Regions from separate parts of the Homo sapiens genome. Here region 1 is linked to region 2. Evidence: fine-mapped expression QTL. Tissue or cell type: whole blood. Region 2 holds a variant in brackets; the other region holds the start of a gene. All regions are shown on one strand. Distances are from middle to middle.

Region 1 (2,618 bases), 33 kb after region 2:
ACTGCCTCCTCCGAGCACCCGGCTCTCCCCTCCCTGCGGACTCTTCTCTGGAGAGGATGTGATGCTTCTTACTTTTCTCAGATCCCTCTCCCCACCCTGCGAGTGACGTTGCGCCTCTGTGCCTGGTGGGATAGGGATCTGGGAGCTTCGCCTGTTTTTTGCACACTGCCATCCCCTAGTCTTAGGGAGCGAGCTCTGTCCCGCTTTTCACATCTCCGCGTCTTTCCTTGCACTCTACATCACCGCTGGGAATGTCCCCAGACCTGATCGGGGCATGCACACTGGGGTGTGCGTGTGCGTGTGGTGTGTGTTCCTGCGCGTGTGCCGGGCTCGCGGGGCAGGAAAAAGCGCCTAATCCAGGCTCTGCGTCACTCCCGCAATTGGTTAGAAATGGAGTTTCCTGGTGTTTAATCCCGGGAGGGCACTTCGCCTTCGTTGTTTCCCAGAGTCCCTGATTTTCCTGCCTCGCATGCCAGCGCCCCATAGGGCATCCGTGCCTCAGTTCACCTCTTGCCATCCTCCAAGGACGGGGAGAAGGGGTAAGGCGGGGGAGAGCAAGGTGGCTTGGTCGCCCCCGGCCCCCGCCCCCCATGTTGTGTGCAGTTTCCACCACGTCTGTTTCGGAGGGAGAAGAGGAGGGTGCAGATGAGGCGAGGCGCCTTCGGGAGCGCGGAGAGCGGGCAGGCAGTGCCACCTGCTGAGAGCCACTCAGGCCGAGCAAGCGGCGGGCAGTGCCACCTGCTATAAATAGGCCGCCAAGGACAGGGTGTGCGACTGTACATCCCGCCACGAGGGCCTGCATCACGCGCGGGGCCCCGCGCCCCCGGCTCCCCAGGGAAACGCTGTGCCCAGATCCTGCGCAGGGGTCTGGATGGGGCGGCGGCCCGAGTACTTCCCCCCTATTCCCCCCACAGACACTGGCTGAGGATGGCCCGCGGGCTTGGGGGCGGGGGGTGGCAAGGAGGGGAGGGAGGCCGCGGCGGACCCGCAGTGCAGCAGCTGTTGCTCGCGTGTGACTCGCCCGTCCGGGCCGTGCTGCCCAGGCACAGTCACACGGCGCAGTGGGGAGGAGGAGGACACCGAGTCCCCCTCCCAGCTCCCCGGGGACCGAGTGGGGAGATCCCGGCTCCTGTCTTCCCCTCGCCTCCAGCGCGCTCGCCCAGGCTGGGAGGAGGAAACCAGAGCCGCGCGCAGACACCTCCTCCTTCTCCTCCTCTTCTTCCTCCTCCTCCTCCTCCTCCTCTTCGGCTGCTGCTCCTGGTGCCGCCACCGTCCGCCGGTGCCTGTTGCTGCCGCCGCCGCGGGACCTGCTGTGTCCTCAGCTGGGTGGAGAAGAGGCGGGCGCCGAGCCGAGGGGAGCCCCCTCCCCGTCCCCCCGCGGCGGGAAGAGCGCAGCCAGCCGGGTGCGATGGACTCCCCGCCCGCCCAGGCCGTCCCCAGGATGCCCCCAAGCACCTGCGCGTCCCGGCCCGGCCCCGGGCTCTGAGCGCGCCGCGGCACAGGTAAGGCGCTTCCTGGGGCTTCGTCCTGGCCACCCTGCTGGCTCCTCTCGGGGCGTCGCGGCCGCCCCCTCCCGCAGCACGCCCCTGCCCCGCCTGGCCGCGGAGGGGAAGGCATCTGGCCGCCCACGGACGCGAGGCCAGGGTCTCTCGGGGGAGGAAGTTCATTGCCATCTCGTTGCCCCCCTTACCCCCCCACCCCCGCCGCCCTTGGACGAAAGCGAAACCTTAATGTTGCTAGCGACCCGAGAGCTCCGCCGGCTTCTCCCCCAACCCCCGCCAGCTCACTGGTCCGCGCATCTCTCCCCTCCCCCCTCCCGCCAATTATCCTAGCGTGTTTGCAAGGCGACCAGATTGGAAAGAGTGTGGTCAGAGTGACCCCAAGCCACGCTTTAAAAGTTCAGGGTACTTTGCAGTAGTAACTTTGGCAGCTCCACCAGTGCGCGCAACATTTCTTTCTATGGGTACATCCTGTACCAGTCATTTTGAAACCCTGCTTCATTGTTTCTAGCCGCTTCCTGATGGCTCTGTGATTATGAGACCCCCCTCAAACTTCACCAGGCATTAAGGTTTTGTTTTTGCTTTTTTTTCAGAGAGGTATCATTTCGTTTGAAATCCACCTAGATGTGGCTTTTCCTGTTTTGATTTTACTTAACATAGCTTATTCTCTGGAAGTTGCTTTAAAAAGAAATTGAAAGTGATGGTTGTTCCTTCCACCAAACAGTTTAATTTTCAGGGTGCCTCATATTAATGGATATGTTTTCCCTTCATAGATTTCTCATTGTTTCCCTTATGATGGGATGATTTCATTTATTAATAAAATCAGACTTTGAAAGAGCATTTAAAAATGACCTGGTTTAAATAGGTCACACCCAAGAAACTCAGCTATCTGTACAAGTTCAAACTTCTAAACTTTTTCAATGAGCTAGGGGTGGTGGCACCCACCTGTAGTCCCAGCTACTTGGGAGGCTGAGGCAGGAGGATCACTTGAGCCCAGGAGTTCGAGGCCATAGTGAGCTATGACTGTGCCACCTCACTGGAGCCTGGGTGACAAAGTGAGATCCCATCTCTTAAAAAAAAAGAGTTTAGGGGACATTTTCTGAAGTGAACACAAGTAGA
Region 2 (2,762 bases):
TTCAAGAAATATCTTTGAGTACCCATTGTAGACAGGTCTGTGCTGGGTTCTGGAGGGGGCACAGAGAGCCTCATCAGAGAGAGTCCTTGCTGCCAAAGAACTGATGGGCTGGTAGCTTCAGGTTCAAGTTTCTGTGACCTCAAAAAAGTGTTTGAGTTGGTCACTCTGTAACAACTTAACATTTTGCACCTTAACAAGCTCAGTGCTGTCCTTAGTGTGTGTAAGTGTGATACTGCATGCCTATCCAACATGCCGTTAACCAGCATTTCCCTATTCAGAATACAGTTGAAAATCAGGAAAAGTTTTTGTGAAAGGTGAATTAAGTCAGTGCTGTCTGACAGAACTAAAATGCAATCCACAGATGCAATTTTGATTTTCTACTTGTCACCTTTTAAAAGCGTAAAAAGAAACAGGTGAAATTAATTTCAATAATGTATTTTACTTAACCTAGTATATCCAAAAATTATTACAACATATAATCAGTATAAATATTATTAATGAGATGTTTTACATTCTTTTTTTTTCCTCTGGAAAAAAGTCCTCAAAATTGATTCAGTAATTTTACACTTACGGCATATCTCAATTTGAATGCTCCATTTTTATCAGAAATACTTGATCTGTAGAGTTAATAAAATTTAGATTAGACAAAGTAGATTTTAATACCCAGATTATTCCAAACATACTTGTTTTCTAATAACTGAATCAAGTATCAGTTTTAAAACTTGAACTCAATTAACTGAACTTCATAAAATTAAAAATTTAGTTTCTCAGTGGCGCTTGCCACATTTCAAGTTCTTAGTAGCCACATGTGTCTAATGGCCGCTGTAGTAAACAGCACCCATCTAGGTAATTGTGACAACATAGACAAACCAAAGCTTTGCTCATAGAAGAGTTTTTCCAGCCTCGTGAATCAAACTTGTGCAAATAAAAGCAGATGAAAATTCCTGAGCATCTTAAATTGCCAAGCTAGTAGCAGATTAAATGTAGCAAATTAGAGGAATGGGGAAGTATAACAAACTTTTCTTAGGCAAGGAGAAGTGACTGCTGATAGCAAGAAAGGAAATATTAAAACAAAACAAAACTATAAAACGTGGACACAAGGACTTAGAAAGCTCACCACTCCATGAGTTTATCATGAGGGAAATAGCATTCTACACCCAAGTGAGCCCAGAATACAGCTCCACTCCAACACAGTCATGCTTATGGCTCTCAAATGTCAAGATGTTCAATAAAGAGATATTTAAGAAGTCATGGGACTATGTAATATATTTTCACTATGGATTCCCATTCAAAACCTTTTTGTGCTTAAAGTGCAAAAACTCAACTATTAAGTGAACATATAAAAGCTCATTTTCTAAGAATTCTGGATTACCAATATTTTATTGTAATATTATGCAAGAATCTTGTTTTCGTGTGCATTAGATAGTAAGCTCTTTGCTGCTATATTGCATATAGTTTTTTGTAAACATTTCTTTATAATTCTTGCTTATTTAGTGTT[T/C]TCTTATTTCTATGTTTCATTCTTTTAAAAAGAAATGGACAGTCCAACTAAACAGTCCAACTTAAGGATCTGTTTTTTCTGTATCTTGTCCTTTCCTTTTCATTATCTGATGAAAATATATCTTATACTTCGGAAAGCTTTCCTTTGTAATGATAACACTATTTAAATGTTTAAGGCTTTATGGTATTAACATTTTTCACATGGCTTATTGAGTGGACTTAAATTCAAATATTAGCTTATAAATTAGTGAAAAAAACCTTGAAAATTTGTCCTTTTATTATATGCATTGAAACATTGCTTCCATTTATTAAATGGGACATTAAGCGCTATGTCAGTAGATGGATATGTGGTCACGGCTTAAGCAAGGCACCAGCATACCTAACGTACAACAGCAATAAAGTTTTTTTTGTTTTGTTTTTTGTTTTTTTTTTAAGACATCTCTCTCTGTTGCCCAGGCTGGAGTGCAATGGTGGAATCTTAGCTCACTGCAACCTCTGCCTCCTGGGTTCAAGCGATTCTTGTGCCTCAGCCTCCTGAGTAGCTGAGATTACAGATATGCACCACCACACCCAGCTAATTTTTTGGTGTTTTTTTTTTTTTTTTAGTAGAGACAAGGTTTCATCATGTCGGTCAGGCTGGGCTCGAACTCCTGGCCTCAAGTGATCTGCCAGCCTCAGCCTCCCAAAGTGTTGGGATTACAGGCGTGAGCCACTGCACCAGGCTAGCAATAATGTCTTCACTAAGATTTCCTTCTTTCCTGAAAAGCTTAAATATTATTAATATGCTTTATGTCATAAATTTCAATTATTCATAGAATTTCATGGCCTTCTAATCAACTAAAATGGAAAATCCTTTTCAAGTATGTGCTGCTTTAAAAATATATTTTTGTCAGGGGAGATGTCCTTAGTTTTGTCCAACTTTTTTATTTTGAACAGTTTCAAACCTACAGAAATGTTGGAATAAGAATGCAGTGAATACCCACACACCCTTCACTTAGACCAAACTTTGTATGTAAAGAGCCAGATAGTAAATATTTTAGGATTTGCAGACATGTGATTTCTGTCACCACTACTCAGCTCTGCTAATGTAGTAAGAAAGCAGCCATATGTATAAAGGAATGGGCAGGGCTGTGTTCCAGTAAAACTACATGAACCACAGTTTGTTGACCCCAATCCAGACTGAGCAATTGCTAACATTTTGCAATATTTGCTCTCTCACCATATATGTTATGTATTTGAGATTTTTCTGTACCATTTGAAACACT

The links. PIP is the estimated chance that this variant, and not a neighbour inherited with it, causes the effect.
Region 1: TBC1D1 starts here. The variant in region 2 is fine-mapped to the expression of TBC1D1 in whole blood (TOPMed, PIP above 0.99).

Annotation. Positions count from the first base shown.
Region 1 is chr4:37,889,847-37,892,464 of GRCh38, forward strand. TBC1D1 (TBC1 domain family member 1) reads left to right here and starts at 1,238. Exons shown (of 22, transcript NM_001396959.1): 1 at 1,238-1,502. RefSeq lists silencers at 757-946, 1,267-1,766 and an enhancer at 2,546-2,618.
Region 2 is chr4:37,856,429-37,859,190 of GRCh38, forward strand. The region is part of intron 13 of PGM2 (phosphoglucomutase 2); the gene reads left to right. Among named protein-coding and RNA genes, the nearest start is that of PGM2, 31 kb to the left of the region's middle. The variant T/C (reference allele first, on the strand shown) is at 1,499.